2 separate regions of the Homo sapiens genome follow, and region 2 is reported to be linked to region 1. Evidence: microRNA targets listed by miRTarBase, many of them from high-throughput screens and not tested one by one. Region 1 holds a microRNA gene; the other region holds the end of a gene's coding sequence.

Evidence for each region. Region 1 holds the annotated microRNA hsa-miR-513a-5p (UUCACAGGGAGGUGUCAU, at 6,720-6,737, opposite strand). A microRNA usually pairs through its seed, bases 2 to 8, with sites in the 3' UTR of a target mRNA and lowers its output. Matches are read on the target gene's strand: a 7mer-m8 pairs with bases 2 to 8, a 7mer-A1 pairs with bases 2 to 7 and ends in A, and an 8mer does both.
Region 2: the mRNA of PPIF is a reported target of hsa-miR-513a-5p. Seed matches in the 3' UTR shown: 7mer-m8 at 7,422-7,428 and 7mer-A1 at 7,101-7,107.

Annotation. Positions count from the first base shown.
Region 1 is chrX:147,219,181-147,228,488 of GRCh38, forward strand. MIR513A2 (microRNA 513a-2) reads right to left here and starts at 6,772; the gene lies at 6,646-6,772. The region is part of intron 2 of LOC105373347 (periphilin-1); the gene reads left to right.
Region 2 is chr10:79,352,219-79,361,526 of GRCh38, reverse strand. It overlaps PPIF (peptidylprolyl isomerase F), which reads right to left. Exons shown (of 6, transcript NM_005729.4): 5 at 9,135-9,210; 6 at 6,193-7,820. The coding sequence ends at 7,685. Among named protein-coding and RNA genes, the nearest start is that of PPIF, 9.4 kb to the right of the region's middle. RefSeq lists cis regulatory regions at 4,978-5,478, 6,938-7,438, 6,944-7,444, 6,947-7,447, 7,006-7,506 and 3 more and an enhancer at 9,307-9,308.

The sequences.
Region 1 (9,308 bases):
CCAGAATGAATATGTAACCATTAAACCAGATTTGTTCATGTGTTGGGACAACACAGATCAAAACCATCTCAACCCATGCTAACAGAACTGACATTTTATTGAAAAACAGATAATTTTTAAAAAGTAAGTAGAAAAATTCTTGGTATACACAAGAGTGTTAAATTATATGTTCTTATTTATGCTGATATATGTTATTTATTATATTATTAAATTACATGCATTTTTAGTATTCTGTAGTTTGCATTTTTGTTATCTCAGTGGTCTTATTTGAAGACAAAGTTTGACTTTTTAAAAAAGTCTATTTTTAATCAATTTTATTTTTATATTTTGATATCATAGATAATAATTTAATGGCCAAAAATATTTTCTCTCATTTATTTTAATGAAATATGATAGTTTGACCTTTTGGCCTAAGATTGTGTTAATTTAATTTCTGTATATGGTTTGAAATATGGATCAAGATTCATATTCTTCATATATATATCACATTTCCCAGCATCTCGTTGTGTAAATATTAATATTATTATTTCATTTCTTCATTAGATTGACTTTACAGCTTAGTCAAAATGAATTGGTGACATACATAGATATTTCTGGTCTTTCCATTCAATTTGTCCATCCTTCAGTACCACACTATATTGGCTAATCTAGTTAGACAGTAAAGCTGAAAATTACAAGTGTAAATTCTCCAGCTTTGTGATTCTCTTTCAGATTGTTTGTTTTGGATATTTCAGATTGTTTGTTTTGGATATTCTAGTTTATTTGCTTTTATATCAGTTTTAGAATCATCATGCTAATGTCTACAAATGTCCTTCTAGGACATTGGCTGGAATTTCATTAACTCTATAGAGCAATAGAACTCTGTAAATTTATAGATTTGAATCCTTCAATCGATAAATATGATACTCCTCTCCACTTACTTAGTAATTATTTGATTCTCTTAGTATATTTACAGATGTTTTTGGTTTTCTACTGATACTGTAAGAAATTGCCACAAATTTAGTTGTTTACAACAACACAAATTTATTATGTTAGAGTCTAAAGGTCAGAAATAATATAAATTAGCTTTACCTCGGCTAAAATGAAGGCATTGGCAGGGCTTTGTTCCTTCTGTTGGCTCTAGAGGAGAATCTACTTGATTGTCTTTAGAAGATTCTACTTGCTTCCTCCATTCTTTGGCTCATGGCCTTTATACCTTTTCCAATGTTTCTCTTATTCTAACCACCTTCCTTCTACTTATAAGGAACCCTGTGATTATGTTGGGCTCACCTAGATAATCTAGGATAATCCCAATCTCAAAATATTTAATCATATCTACAAATTTCTTTCTACCACAAAATGTGATGTTTTTGAGTTCAGGGGTTACTCTGTAAACATCTTTTGGAGGGGGACTGTTTGTTTGTTATTCTGCATACCACAGAGATCTTGTAATTTGTATTTAGACTTTCACCTAAATATTTTATGTTGTGTTTTAATTAGCTTGATTTAATCATTGTATAATATATACATATATCCAAACATCATGTTGTACACCTTAAATATATACAAAGTTGGTAGAAACACGGATGAATGATACAAAAAAGTATTTCTTTTTTTTGTTATTATTTTTTTATTATACTTTTTAAGTTTTAGGGTACATGTGCACATTGTGCAGGTTAGTTACATATGTATACATGTGCCATGCTGGTGCGCTGCACCCACTAACTCATCATCTAGCATTAGGTATATCTCCCATTGCTATCCCTCCCCCCACCCCACCACAGTCCCCAGAGTGTGATATTCCCCTTCCTGTGTCCATGTGATCTCATTGTTCAATTCCCACCTATGAGTGAGAATATGCGGTGTTTGGTTTTTTGTTCTTGCGATAGTTTACGGAGAATGATGATTTCCAAATTTCATCCATGTCCCTACAAAGGACATGAACTCATCCTTTTTTATGGCTGCATAGTATTCCATGGTGTATATGTGCCACATTCTCTTAATCCAGTCTATCATTGTTGGACATTTGGGTTGGTTCCAAGTCTTTGCTATTGTGAATAATGCCGCAATAAACATACGTGTGCATGTGTCTTTATAGCAGCATGATTTATAGTCCTTTGGGTATATACCCAGTAATGGGATGGCTGGGTCAAATGGTATTTCTAGTTCTAGATCCCTGAGGAATCGCCACACTGACTTCCACAATGGTTGAACTAGTTTACAGTCCCACCAACAGTGTAAAAGTGTTCCTATTTCTCCACATCCTCTCCAGCACCTGTTGTTTCCTGACTTTTTAATGATTGCCATTCTAACTGGTGTGAGATGGTATCTCATTGTGGTTTTCATTTGCATTTCTCTGATGGCCAGTGATGGTGAGCATTTTTTCACGTGTTTTTGGCTGCATAAATGTCTTCTTTTGAGAAGTGTCTGTTCATGTCCTTTGCCCACTTTTTGATGGGGTTGTTTGTTTTTTTCTTGTAAATTTGTTTGAGTTCATTGTAGATTCTGGATATTAGCCCTTTGTCAGATGAGTAGGTTGCCTGTTCACTCTGATGGTAGTTTCTTTTGCTGTGCAGAAGCTCTTTAGTTTAATTAGATCCCATTTGTCAATTTTGGCTTTTGTTGCCATTGCTTTTGGTGTTTTAGACATGAAGTCCTTGCCCATGCCTATGTCCTGAATGGTATTGCCTAGGTTTTCTTCTAGGGTTTTTATGGTTTTAGGTCTAACGTTTAAATCTTTAATCCATCTTGAATTGATTTTTGTATAAGGTGTAAGGAAGGGATCCAGTTTCAGCTTTCTACATATGGCTAGCCAGTTTTCCCAGCACCATTTATTAAACAGGGAATCCTTTCCCCATTGCTTGTTTTTCTCAGGTTTGTCAAAGATCAGATAGTTGTAGATATGCGGCATATGCGGCATTATTTCTGAGGGCTCTGTTCTGTTCCATTGATCTAGATCTCTGTTTTGGTACCAGTACCATGCTGTTTTGGTTACTGTAGCCTTGTAGTATAGTTTGAAGTCAGGTAGTGTGAAGCCTCCAGCTTTGTTCTTTTGGCTTAGGATTGACTTGGCGATGCGGGCTCTTTTTTGGTTCCATATGAACTTTAAAGTAGTTTTTTCCAGTTCTGTGAAGAAAGTCATTGGTAGCTTTATGGGGATGGCATTGAATCTGTAAATTACCTTGGGCAGTATGGCCATTTTCACGATATTGATTCTTCCTACCCATGAGCATGGAATGTTCTTCCATTTGTTTGTATCCTCTTTTATTTCCTTGAGCAGTGGTTTGTAGTTCTCCTTGAAGAGGTCCTTCACATCCCTTGTAAGTTGGATTCCTAGGTATTTTATTCTCTTTGAAGCAATTGTGAATGGGAGTTCACTCATGATTTGGCTCTCTCTCTGTTTGTCTGTTGTTGGTGTATAAGAATGACAAACTATCTCTCGGACCACAGTGCAATCAAACTAGAACTCAGGATTAAGAATCTCACTCAAAGCCGCTCAACTACATGGAAACTGAACAACCTGCTCCTGGATGACTACTGGGTACATAACGAAATGAAGGCAGAAATAAAGATGTTCTTTGAAACCAACGAGAACAAAGACACAACATACCAGAATCTCTGGGACACATTCAAAGCAGTGTGTAGAGGGAAATTTATAGCACTAAATGCCCACAAGAGAAAGCAGGAAAGATCCAAAATTGACACCCTAACAACACAATTAAAAGAACTAGAAAAGCAAGAGCAAACACATTCAAAAGCTAGCAGAAGGCAAGAAATAACTAAAATCAGAGCAGAACTGAAGGAAATAGAGACACAAAAAACCCTTCAAAAAATCAATGAATCCAGGAGCTGGTTTTTTGAAAGGATCAGCAAAATTGATAGACCACTAGCAAGACTAATAAAGAAAAAAAGAGACAAGAATCAAATAGACACAATAAAAAAATGATAAAGGGGATATCACCACCCATCCCACAGAAATACAAACTACCATCAGAGAACACTACAAACGCCTCTACGCAAATAAACTAAACTAGAAAATCTAGAAGAAATGGACACATTCCTCGACACATACACTCTCCCGAGACTAAACCAGGAAGAAGTTGAATCTCTGAATAGACCACCAGGAAGAAGTTGAATCTCTGAATAGACCAATAACTAACAGGAGCTGAAATTGTGGCAATAATCAATAGTTTACCAACCAAAAAGAGTCCAGGACCAGATGGATTCACAACCGAATTCTACCAGAGGTACAAGGAGGAACTGGTACCATTCCTTCTGAAACTATTCCAATCAATAGAAAAAGAGGGAATCCTCCCTAACTCATTGTATGAGGCCAGCATCATTCTGATACCAAAGCCGGGCAGAGACACAACCAAAAAAGAGAATTTTAGACCAATATCCTTGATGATCATTGATGCAAAAATCCTCAATAAAATACTGGCAAAACGAATCCAGCAGAACATCAAAAAGCTTATCCACCATGATCGAGTGGGCTTCATCCCTGGGATGCAAGGCTGGTTCAATATACGCAAATCAATAAATGTAATCCAGCATATAAACGGAGCCAAAGACAAAAACCACATGATTATCTCAATAGATGCAGAAAAAGCCTTTGACAAAATTCAACAACCCTTCATGCTAAAAACTCTCAATAAATTAGGTATTGATGGGACGTATTTCAAAATAATAAGAGCTATCTATGACAAACCCACAGCCAATATCATACTGAATGGGCAAAAAGTGGAAGCATTCCCTTTGAAAACTGGCACAAGACAGGGATGCCCTCTCTCACCACTCCTATTCAAGATAGTGTTGGAAGTTCTGGCCAGGGCAACCAGGCAGGAGAAGGAAATAAAGGGTATTCAATTAGGAAAAGAGGAAGTCAAATTGTCCCTGTTTGCAGACGACATGACTGTATATCTAGAAAACCCCATTGTCTCAGCCCAAAATCTCCTTAAGCTGATAAGCAACTTCGGCAAAGTCTCAGGATACAAAATCAATGTACAAAAATCACAAGCATTCTTATACAAAAAAGTATTTCACTGAAAGAAAAACCATAAATACCAGTGAATATAGTACTCTTTTTGAGAAATCCTAAAAGAGATAGTACTCTTTTTGAGAAATCCTAAAAGAGATATAACTAAATTCTCTGTCTTTGTTTCATTTTACGATATCACTTATTTAAGTACACATGAATTCTCTCTAATACAGTTTTAGAAATTATATGCTAAAAAGAGTTATCACTTTGGAAATTTCTACACACATACAGTATTTCCAACGGACAGAATTTTTTTTTATTATTCAGAATGTCCCCCCGCCTCCAATGAAAAAAGTTCTATATATTCTATTAGTACAATTGTTTTAATATTGAAAAAGATACTTCAACTGATTTTTTTTACTTCCAGACATTAATGGTCTTATACATATTCATCCATTCTGAACCTAAAAAAACAAACATAAACTAAAATCCTGCCTGTAACCATATAGTAATTGTTTTTTTATAGTTTCTCTCTTTCGGTGTATATGCTGTAACCTCTATTTCCGTTGGAATCAAAATTGTATTAATCAATCACTTACTATTTATAACATTTTTAAACACATTTCCCCAATATAAGTAGCTTATTTATATATAACCTACTTCTAAAAAATGCATACTAGTTTCATGCTGCAGATGGCCTCACACCATCTGGCACTTGTCTTACTCTTGTGCACGTGCGTATTTGCCTCTTTCTCTCTCCATTAGGTTGAGTTAAGAAGTGTCAACACAAGAAAATGGGGCCGGGCATGGTGGTTCACGCCTGTAATCCCAGCAATTTGGGAGGGTGAGGTGGGTGGATCACGAGGTCAGCAGTTCGACACCAGTCTGACCAACGTGGTGAAACCTGGTCTCTACTAAAAATACAAAAATTAGCCAGGTGTGTTGGCGCACGCCTGTAATCCCAGCTACTTGGGAGGCTGAGGCAGAAGAATCGCTTGAACCCGGGAGACAGAGGTTGCAGTGAGCTGAGATGGCGCCACTGCACTCCAGCCTGTGTGAAAGAGTAAGAAAGACTCCATCTCAAAAAAAAAAAAGACAGAAAATGGGGAGAGAAGACTAGGAGATATCTCTTGAGTAACAACTCTATCATACGCTTCCATTGTTCAAACATAAAAAACAGGGAAAAAAGATAATGGAAAAGGGTGAAATATTCTTGGGTGGACTACGCTTAACCCTCCATAAATTGGTGACTGAAGGCTTTGAAAGGTATTTTAAAAGTCTATGAGAAAATGTTTTAGTCTTTGACAGAAAATGGACACTGTGGATCAGCAATGAAGGGACCTGAGAGGCAGGAGAGTCTTTTGGGAGCGCTAAAGGAGAATCCTTGCAAATGATGACTTCTTGATAAGTGAGAAAAGTTTAGGAATCTGGAATATAGCCTTCCAGCTGACGAAGAATGGCTGTGGCCTCTATCCAATGTATTTCTTATTTGAGCCAAGCCTCATTTGGCAAAAATAGATAAATTCTTAAGGAACCGAAGTGCATGCGTTTTCTCAGGAGTCCACAGTTCCTATGTATAGTCATTTAGAAGGCACAAAAAGTTCCCTGAAGTAGCCCAGCACTGAAGAGTGGGTGCACAGGATGCAAAACAGGCATCACCATGCTCGCAGCTACACCCCCATCCTCAGGGACACCACATATGCAGTGCATGCTGTACATTACCCTTCTCAGAAAGGTGAAATTTATATTTTAGTTCACATAAATGACACCTCCCTGTGAAAGGCACTGCACACTGAATGGCTGAATGTGGCATCCAAGAACAAATGCTCCCTATTCATGCCGTTTTTTTTCAAGTCCCTATAGGTGTATGCCTTGGCATGGCCACCAAGATTTATGCCAAGGGACAATGCAACTTGTAGCCCCCGGCGCTCCCCTTTTCATCCTGCCCCAAGTGAGATTTTAACATGCAGATTTTTGTTTTGTTTTTGTTTTTGTTTTCAGATGAAGTCTGGCTCTGTCGCCCAGACTGGCATGCATTGGTGTGATCTCGGCTCACTGCAACCTCCCCCTTCTGTGTCTAAGCACTTCTCCTGCCTCAGCCTCCCAAGTAGCTGGGATTAAAGGCACATACCACCGCGAATGGCTAATTAACACACAAATTTTAGGCTTAGCCAGAATATAACATTTCACTTCATCTCTTCCCCAGAGATGTGTAATCCTTGTCTGGATTATCCCATTAGTTTTCGCGTTAATTTGCTTGTCTCATTAAAAATCCTCAATATCAGGCCAGGTGCAGTGGGTCACACATATAATCTCATCACTCTGGTAGGCTGAGGCTGGTGGATCATCAGAGGTCAGGATTTTGAGACCAGCCTGGACAACGTGGTGAAATTCCATCTCTACTACAAATACAAAAAATTAGCCGGGTGTGGTGGTGGGCAACTGTAACCGCAGCTGCTGAGGCAGGAGAATCACTTGAACCCGGGAGGTGGAGGTTGCAGTGAGCCGAGATCATGCCACTGAATCACTTGAACCCGGGAGGTGGAGGTTGCAGTGAGCCGAGATCATGCCACTGCACCCCAGCCTGGGCAACAGAGTTAGTTAGACTCTTTCTCAAAAAAAAAAAACAAAAAAAAACTATATATATATATATGTGTGTGTGTGTGTGTGTGTGTGTGTGTGTGTGTGTGTGTGTGTGATGTACACAAATAATCATGAGCTGAGGCAAATTAAAAGACCTGGATTCTTCTAGCTCTGGCCCTTGATAGCATGTAGAAGTCAGACCACATGATCGTCAAGACCGAGTGTTTCTATGTACCATTCTCATTCATCTACTAAACATAACCCCTGAAAGACAGACAGAGAAGCACATAGCTCAGTGTTAGTGCTGAGTCACGGTCAAGGAGCCATAGTTCACTGAACAGAATGATTCTAAATATCTCAAGCATTTTACTGCATTTTTTGAATTCCATGAAAAGCAACCAAAGTTAGATTCTACAGAAATATTTATATATATCAATCAATCAATCAATCAATTTAGCTTTTCTCTTAAGTATTTGGGCCCTTGAGCTATCTCCCCAAAAAGTTCTCAAGGGGAAAAAAATACACAGACACAATACTCCCTCCTTCAAACACCAGTACAGGTACTACTTCTCTTCCTCTGCATCACCCACCCCTCAGTAGCTTCAAAGGAGTCTTTCCAGCAACCTGGCACATCATAGCAGGAGATTCTAAGACCCACTGCTCCATGAAACCACATACACAGACACATATACGCCCAAGTAAACAATATTAAAAAGAATGAGAATACAACAAAATATGAATACAAAAAAACTAACCATAAACAGAATTGATAAGCCATCGAAAGAACCCTAGCAATACACAATGCAAAGTTCCAACAACATATGTGCAAATTAATATGCAAATTAAAATATAACCGAAATCACACAGTGAAATCCAAATAACAACAAAAAGAAAATACAAAATTGCAAGCAATGTACGTAAAGAAATACCAATCAAAACACCAATGACCAAGAGCATGGCAAATCTGAAAACAAATTCAAACAAACACATATAATCCCAAAGGAGCCAAAGTCAAACAAACAAAGCAAAACCATACACATGAAATAAACTGATAAGAATAGCAAAAGCAAAACAAAAACAAAACAGAGATCCAACCTCAAACAAAAACAACATAACAAAATCCTCATGCTACATGCCCCGTGCACACACAAATGTATGGGCACATACACCAAAGTGCACACAGATACATGTATTACTCCCCCCATCACCATATAAACACAAACAAATGTGCTAGAACACATGCTAAAAACTCACAATCACCAACAAATATATCAGGGTATCTGAGCCTCAAAGCCCAAGGAAATCCTATGAGTGCAAGAAGGATGGAAATAGATACGATGAAGGGTAGCCACATGTAGTTGAATGGTAATACTATTAGGAAAGAAAGTAGAGTAGTTTTCTTCTATTTCATTGTAACCTACATTTCCCATCAAGTTCTTGAGTTGGGGAGGGGCATGTGGTTGTTTGGAGATGGGAAACAAACTCAAATTACACAACCCATATTTGCCAACACTTGACTATAATTTGATAGGGTTTACCTGAAAGGAGGCATCAAGCTCTCTCACATTTTTCAGCACAGAAGTGTAAAAGACTCACTGCTCCAGTCGTGTCTGTCTGTCTCTTTCAGTCTGGCTCTGCTTGATTGTCTTTCTCTTTCTCTTTCTCTTTCTCTCGTAACAGCCATAGTTTAAGAAGAGATATCTTGAAAACACGGAAAGAGAAAAGTCAATACAATATTTCCTAATTTTTTAAGAGGTCAGAGAAGGGA
Region 2 (9,308 bases), not on the chromosome of region 1:
TGAAATGCATCCTTTCCCACTAGATCTTCCAACATATTAATCAGAGTTATTTTAATGTTCATATCTGACAATGTTATATCTGAGTCTGATTCTGTTGTTTTATTTCTTGACAATGTTTTTCTTCTTTGCATTTTGTGTGTCTTCTAATTTTTTGTTGAAAATCAATAGAATTCCAACAATAGAAGAGACAGTAGTGAACAGTATGTGTCATTATTAATTTTATGTGTCAACTTGGCTAGGCCAGGGTACTCAGATATTTGGTCACACACCAGTCTAGATGTTGCTGTGAAGGTATTTTTGAGATGAGATTAAAATTTAAATCAGTGACTTTGAGTAAAGCATATTGCCCTCCATAATGTGGTGGGCCTCATCCAATCAGTTGAAGACTTTAAGAGAAAAAGACTAAGGTCCACCAAAGAAGGTGGCATTTTGCTTCTTGAACCCAAGCTCCAAAATCAACTCTTCCCTGAGTCACCAGCCTGCTGGCCTGTCCTGCAGAATTTGGAATTGCCCAGGTCCCACAACTGCATGAGCCAATTAATTAAAATCTCTCAATCTCTCTCTCTCCCTCTGCCTATACATATATACACATCCAATTGGTTCTAGTTCTCTGAAGAACCCTGACTAATACAGTATGTACACTGGAAACAGGCATGCCACTGATTCTTTCAGGCCATTATTGTGGGAAATTGAGTTAGTCGCCTCAGGGGTTGAGCTGGATTTGGGGTTTGTGTTGCTATTCTTGCTTTCAGAGCTCCATAGGCTTCAAATTCCTTAAGTGGTGGATTACTGTTGACTTGTGCTTACAGTGGAGCTGGGGTGCCAAAGGATTGTTTAGACTCCACACTCAGCTTTCTGCAATACGGAGGGTGTCTCTCTCCATGCCCCGCCCTCCCCCACTGGTAGACCAGGCTCATAGTAAGGCAGGAGGCTTTTCTGCTGTCCTCATCCCGCCTTAGTCTTAGGCATGTCTTGGCTGTTTCTTGCTCCCTCTTCCACCAGAGGTAGTCAATTTCTGGTTGGTATCGCTAAAGGATCCTGGGCCCTGGATGGCTTCTTACCCCTCCCACAGGGATAAAAGGATGTGTGTTCTACTTCCCCCAGCCACAGTGCACTTTTACATGTTCCTGGGGGTGGATGGTGTAATGCCCAACCTCCCAGTGGATTCTCAAATTTACTTCATTGGAGAGAAGAACCTGAGGAAGTGGACGAGGCTCCGTGCCTTTCTCCAGCAGCTGAAGGTCCCCTCCTGCAGACCTGAACCACCAAGTTGGGCTACCTCTTAGGTCTTCTGTGCATCTGGTGGGAGCCTGGAGAAAGATGTTGAACTCCCTTTGCATCTGGGGTCCCCAGCTACTCCAGATGGACACATTAGCCCCCTCTTGGCCTTTAGCAATTCATTAAAAGGCTTACCTAATTTTATTTTATTTTACACAGTTGTTTCATGGTCATATCTTCCTACAGTGCTCTGCCACAGGTGAAACTGTGTGTCCTGTCTCTCCTTGCAGGGCCTTGTTCCTCTTTTTTTTTTTTTTTTTTTTGAGATGGAGTCTCACTCTGTTGCCCAGGCTAGAGTGCAGTGGTGCAATCTCGGCTCATTGCAACCTCCGCCTCCCGGTTCAAGTGATTCTCCTGCCTCAGTCTCCAGAGTAGCTGAGATTACAGGCATGCACCACCATGCTCGGCTATTTTTTTTTTATTTTTAGTAGAGACAGGGTTTCACCACGTTGGCCAGGCTGGTCTCCAACTCCTGACCTCAGGTGATCCGCCCACCTTGGCCTCCCAAAGTGCTGGGATTACAGGCGTGAGCCACGGCGACTGGCCGCTTTGTTCCTCTTTGAAACTCAGGTTATTTGGTTGCCTTTCTGGTGAGCTCAAGAAAAGTTACGATTTTGTAGTTTATTCAACTTCTTCTCATTGTTAGGAAAGGAGTGGTGGTCTTTGCAGCTAAGCAAATGCAGAAACCTATACCAACTATTACTGTAATAGGATTGTAGGCAATGCTAATTCTCTATATTATATAATTATGTAACATTTGAATTTTTACATGTGCATTTTGGTTTTATAAATAGAAAAAAGACAATATGTGTAAGAGAAACAGAATCAGTAGAATATATATGTGTGTGTGTGTGTGTGTGTGTATATATTTATACCATATACATAAGATATATATGATACAAAAACATAAGGAATTGGCTCATGTGATCATGGGGGCTGAGAAGACCCACCACCTGTAGTTGGCGGGCTGGAGACCCAGGAGAGCCAATGGTGTAGGTCCAGTCCGAGTCTGAAGGCCTGAGAACCAGAAGAGCCAATGTAGGTTCCAGTCTGAAGGCTGGCAGGCTCAAGACCCTGAGACAGCCAACATTTCAGTTTGAGTCCAAAGGCAGAAAATACCAATGTTCCAGCTGAGGACCGTCAGGCAGGAGGCGTTCCCTCTTAGCCTTTTGTTCTATTCAGGTCTTCAGTTGACTGGACGAAGTCCACCCACACGAGGGAGAACCACCTGCTTTACTCGGTCTAGCTATGCAAATATTAATCTTAGACAGAAACACCCTCACAGACACACCCAGAATAGTGTCTGACCCAATGTGTAAGCACTCTGTGACCCAGTTAGGTTGACACATAAGGCTGGGTGTGGTGCCTGACACCTATAATCTCAACATTTTAGGAATTTGAAGTGGGAGGACCACTTGGGGCCAGGAGAGACTGGCCTGGGAAATACAGCAAGACCCGCATCTTTTAAAAAAATAAAAAATAAATAGCCAAGCATGGTGGCACGTGCCTGTAGTCCCAGCTACTCAGGGTGCTGAGGTGGAAGGATTGCTTGAGCCTAGGAGTTTGAGGTTACAGCAAGCTATGATTGTGCCACTGCACTCCGGCATGGGTGACAGAGTGAGACCCCATCTCAAAAAAAAAAAATTGACCCATAAAATTAACGATCACAATATGATAGAATAGCAATAATGTTATCAGCATAATTCTGGACAGCCTCTACAGGCTGGGTGATCTGGGAGGCAGAATGGACCCAAGACTTTCTCTACCTGCCATATTCTGAAGAATCTTGGACATAGAGCTGACTTCTGGCCTCCGCAATCCACTCACTGAGAAATGCACTCCATCCAAGACCCACCCAAGGCAGCCCCTCCTCCTAGATGACAAAACAAGAGCTGGGGCCTCCACCCCTCTAGGAGCTTCTTCCTTCACAGGCTCCTGCATAGGCAAAGACAGGGGGAGCCACTTTTTCTTTTCTCTTTTTGAGACAGCGTGTTGCTCTGTCACCCAGACTGCAGTCCCGTGGCATGATCATGGCTCACTGCAGCCTCCGGCTCCTGGGCTCAAGTGATCCTCTTACCTCAGCCTCCCGAGTAGCTGGGACCACAGGCACATGTCACCAAGCCCAGCTAAGTTTTAATTTTTTTTTTTTTTTTTTTTTTTTTTTTTTTTTTTGTAGAGATGCGATCTCACTATGTTGACCAGGCTGGTCTGAAACCCCTGGGCTCAAGCAATCCGTTCACCTCTGCTTCCCAAAGTGCTGGGATTACAGGCATGAGCCACCATGCCTGGCTGGCCACTTTGACCAGCGCTATCGAGGAGCTCCCCTGCCCACTGGCCTCCACAGAGCTTGAGTGGAATAGGATGTGCCCCACCCAGTCATCCGAGACTTGTCGGTCAGACTCCTTAAGTGAGGCTTCTTTTAAAAGTGGAGGGTGTCACACTAGAGTCCCAGAAAGTCCAGTAAAAAATGTTTCCAGAAGTAAATGATGACTCTAGTGTTGAGCCATGACCTTCCCTTTCACTCTTACCCACTGTGGCTACACTCAAATTCTTAAGCTTTATCAGATTTGTCTCCGGAATTGCTTCCTGCCGGAGAGTTCATGGTCTCGTTGACTTCGAGAATGGAGCCACGGCCCTTCACGGTGAGTGTTACAGCTCTTAAAGATGGCACAAGTGAGCGGTAGCAAGGTTTATTGTGAAGAGGGAAAGGACAAAGTTTCCACAACACGGAAAGAGACCCGAGCCAGTTGCGGCTGCTGGTTGGGATAGCCAACTTTTATTCCCTTATTTGTCCCCGCCCATGTTCCATTTCTGTCCTATCAGAGTGCCTTTTTTCAGTCCTCCCCACGAATGGCTACTTTCAGAATCCTGCTGATTGGTCCGTTTTACAGAGTGCTGATTGGTGCATTTTACAGAGCGCTGATTGGTGCATTTTACAATCCTCTTGTAAGACAGGAAAGTTCCCCAAGGGATGTCCAGCTGGCTTCACCTCTCAGAATTATTATTTTAAAATTCAGATTCCTAGATGCAAATATTCAAAAGGCGTCTCAGGTATGGCCAGAAATCTGCATGATTTACTGGCACTCTGTGATTCCTAGAAGCATTGCTTTAGGCCTTCCCAGACCTACGAAACCTTTAAGAAATTCCTTTTCATGGAGCAAGATTCTTTAGAACCCAGAAGCATATTAGAGCCTCACACATTCTCACACATGCCACACTGGAGAAGCCAGACATGAAAAAGTGAACCCTGCTCAATACCATTTCTACAAAGTTCTAGAACAGGCAAAATTACAGGGATAAGATCCAGTGGCTGCCTGGGAAGGGGCACAGAGAGAACTTTCTGGAAAGACGGAAACATTCTGTATCTTAATTTGGTGATAGATATTACTAGTATATGCTTTTGTCAAAAGTCATTGATGTGTACACTTGAAGTGACTTTTCTTGTACGTAAATATACCTCAATGAAATCATTTTGAAAAGCTATCACATCACAGAAAATAAAATTGATGTTTCAGATTTTTTTTAAAAATCGTGTGTACATGGCACCACTTATGATTACATCTATGAGTGCATGTGTAAGACTCACTGCCTCATTTATGCATGAGGTATTGAGTGCTCACTGGCCAGAAACAAGCCAGTATTTTATTTGTATATTACTTATGTTCTTGCTTTATGCAAGAAATATGACTAGGCTCAGGCCTTTGTGCAGGGAGCTCAGGGAATGAGCAGCACAGGGAACGGCCCTGCTTTCAGGGAACTCGGTTTTTAGGAGATTCCTGCATGTTTGGTGCACCCTCACCTCACCTTAGACTTCTCTGGGTGGAGATACACACACATAGACACACACACATACACGCGTGCACACACACACACTCTCCTCAGCAAGAAGGAAACACAATGACTAAACATAAGCCCCAAAAGAGGAAACTCCAGAGGGAGTGAAGCTGTGGGCTTTGACCTCAGAGATCAGTTGTGCTCTGAATGTGTGTGGCCTGAGAACCTTTGGCAATATGTCCCCCAAGGCACCTGTGCATTCTCGAAGGCCCCCAACAGAAATCCCTGCAGACTGCCAAAAACCCTGGATTCTAGCCCGTTTTGCCAATTGATTCACAGGGTCACATGGGACAATCATAATCCCTCTTGGGGTCTCAGTTTACCCATCTGTAAAGTGTTGGACTGGATGAGAAATTACTAATTATGATTTGGCTCAAGATCCTATTCTTCAAATGAAATCCCTTACAGAACCCCAATATAAATGGAGGGCATCTATGACTGCAAATGGGGTTCAGGGGCCCATGCTCCTTGTGTCCTCCTTGTCTGCTTTGAGGACTCTTAACGCTCTTGATAATTGTTTTAAGACTACTTGTCCTACTGAAACTGACTTCATGGGAACTCTCCATGACTCCAAATGACCCGACCCCAGTCACCATGACCTCAGAGTGACTCCATTAACCTAAGACTACACATAACCTCACTCAGGGAACCCCAGTGAGAAATAATTCTGTTAGATGCCCTCAAAAGGGCCCAAATTTCCTCTGAGAACTGCCTGCCTGACCACTCAACTGCCGGGCCACACCACAGCCCTGTCTACCTAGGGAAGCTCTTACCTCCAATCCTGCCTTCCCTGTGAATTTGGAAACACCTAGAAGTCAATTCCAAATGGAACTGGCTTATCCTAGGAAGTCCACTCCTAACCTCAGATGATGGAGGCTCCTTTGCTCTGGCATCCCTCCTCCTTCCTAAGACCCTGACAGGGGAAAGGTCATCATCCTTGTCACTCCAGAGTGCTTAGGAAGGTGCGCCAGACACTGCGTTATGCACTTCACGTGGATCACCACCCTACGAGGTGGGCCTTATTGTTAACCCGTGTTAGGATTCTTGTATTGCTATAAAAAAATACTTGAGACTGAGTAATTTATTATTAAAAAGGTTTAATTGGCTTATGGTTCTGCAGGATGTACAGGAAGCATGGTGCTGGCATCTGCTCAGCTTCCAGGGAGGCCTCAGGAAGCTTATGACCATGGCAAAAGGTGAAGGGGGATCAGGCATGTCACATGGTGAAAGCAGGAGCAAGAAGGGGGCAGGGGGAGGTGCCACACAATTTTAAATGACCGTATCTTGCAATAATTCACCATCAAGAAAACAGCACCAAGCCATGAAATACCCGTCCCCATGATCCAAACACCTCGTAGCAGGCCCCACCTCCAGCACTGGGGATTACAGTTCAACATGAGATTTGGCTGGGGACAAATATTCAAACTATATCGCCTCCTTATGCAGCTGAGGGAAACAGACTTGGGGTCACTAAGGGGAGGAGCTGGGATTCAGGGTGGAGCCAGTGCTCATGGCATAGGCTATGGGTGCTAAGGTCGTTTGTCTGAGCCTCATCTCTAAGGCAGGGAGGACAAGTTGCCAGCACGATGACATGAAACCATCCACATGAACGTCCTGAGCATGGCATCTGCCACGGCGAGCTCAGTAAAGATCAGCTCCAAGTCACAGACCCCTCTTCCAGAAACCAGGTACCAGTCTTCCATAGAAAATAGGATTTATTTTCACATTTAAGGTGAACACAAATCCATGTTCCAGAAATGTTTTATGCATAACACATCATGAGTAGATTGAATTTCTTTAACACACAGAAAAATCAAAGCCTACCAGGAAATGCTTCCCTCCGGAGCACAGGAGCTTACAGGCCACTTCTGTTAGCAACACAGGAATTCACATTGTCTAGGCACAGCTCAAGTGAGGTTTGTTCCCAGGTTCAACTGCTCCTACCCCCATGGGCCCTCCTCAAAAACGACAGCAGCAAACCAACAGGCTTCACAGTAACCAGGAGGAAAGATCTCAGCGGGGGAACCTTCACAAAAGCCCTGAGTTGTGTTTCAAAAGCCAAGCTCTGGGGTCTGTGGCCTGTGTCACCAACTCAGGTCACACCACAGCACGGGGAAGTTAGTGTTGCAGTTTCACTTCTAGTCAATCTTGTTAATTAAATTATCCCAATTAGGAAGACAATATTAAACAGGTATTAGAGTCCTTTTGCAAAACTGACTGTCCCCCTTGGTCAAGGAAAAGACTTTCACTTGGATGGCAACCCATCACCATCACCATGTCCAAGGCACAGATGAATCTGGGCTGGGCAATCACAGGCAATGCTTGACAAGGGGTGGGTGACATCATGTCCACAAAGATGCCCAGAAATGAGGTCGTGAGGAAGGGTGGGTATTAGGAAGCAATGTGGTGGGTCCTGGCCGAGGTCTAACATCCCTAGCAGCCTTCCTCAGGCACACTGTGACAGTGGAGTGGGCACACGTATCGTTTCAGGCACCTTGGCTGACAGCCCAACGCGGCCACCTGGGTGCATGGACATTTGCAGCTGCCACCATGCCAGCACCCTGGCCACAGATTAGCTCAACTGGCCACAGTCTGTGATGACAATCTTCTTGGATGTCCTCCCACTCTTAGAGCCGAAAGATTCTATTTTCTTCACGACGTCCATGCCCTCTTTGACGTGACCGAACACAACATGCTTGCCATCCAACCTGTGAGGACGGGTGACCCGGGTGAGCAACAGTGTAGCGCAATGTCATCCAATGCCATGGACCTGGTCATGGAATTAGTTACCGAAAACAGCAATTCTGAAAAGAATCCCCATGGAATAGCTAGATCTACCCCCAAAGCTCGATCAAGCCTTGTTGAGCGCCCCAAATACACCCCAGAGGATGCCTGGCTTCCAGGACACATTCTGTCACTCATGTTGTGACCTTGCCTCAGGCCATGTAGCCTGAATCCTGGTAACCCCATCTATCAAAAGTGGAGTATTCTTTGTTCTGCATGGGGAGGTAACAGGATACTGAAATGCTCTGAAGAAAGAAGAAGTCCATACAAATGGAACCACGTTAACGGTCATGAATGATGAGTCAAGAGTCAAAGGAACAAGGGTGGTGAAACTGCAGGAGTCCTGGGCAGCTCTCAACCCGAGAGAGTCCAATAATGTAAAAGGCGGCTCAGTCCAGCTCCAGCGAAGCTGGCGTGGTTCCAGCCAAGAGCAGAACTGCAGGATCCACTGGGGTCCCATGAAGGAGCAAAGAGCAGGCTGAGCCAGCAAGGACCTGCCCAGCCCTGCCGGCCACATCTCTTGGGCTTGGAGGCTGGACACTTCTAGTGTCTGCCCCACCTAGGTCTCCCTAAAATCCTCGGAAATGGGCTTTACCAAGTCAGCTCCCAGCCAGTTCATCCCCAGGTGCCCCAGGGCTAGGACATTTGGGACTCTGGCCAGAGAAATTTATCCCTTAGAGGAAAATGTACCAGGAAAGAGACATCCCTAAAATCCATGGGCATTGAAAACAGGGCCCTTACAGGCCTGTGGCTATCTGCAGGTTTATGATAATACAGAGGCTTCATTTGGAAATTTGCTGATATCCAAATGTCTGCTGCAGCATTGCCAAGGCTCAGCCCATGGTCAAGACAAGCCTGGGAAACTCCAGGTTAAAACCACACAAGTGGGCTTCTACTCAGTCCCTCCTGAGGCCTCATAATATGTTTTGCAACATTTCCCAAATGTATCTGGTAGAGAAACCCTTTCGTGTGTGCGTGTGAGCAGAACACACTCAGAAAATTCCAGGTGACAGCAACAATGGGAACCCGAACCATGACAGAGTTGCAGGAACAACCCCAATTCTCCCTTGATCCTTCCACTAACTTTCTCTTTCTCATACAAACACACAGCCTGGGAGAGGGCCACTGTCCCAGAGCAGAAGGCCTGGCTGTAAACTGCCTGCCCCTAAAAGTGCACGAATCCTCCTCCAGCTGCAAGGCTGCCCGCATTCCCAGAGGGCCTGGGGCAGGGAACTCACCAGTCTGTCTTTATGGTGCAGATGAAGAACTGGGAGCCGTTGGTGTTAGGACCAGCATTAGCCATGGACAGGACACCTGCAAAAACCAGCAGGGCTGAGCCACGCTGCCCCTGGAGGCACCTGCCTGGGAGGGCATTTGAAAGGGCAGACGGTGCAAACCACACCAGGGACATT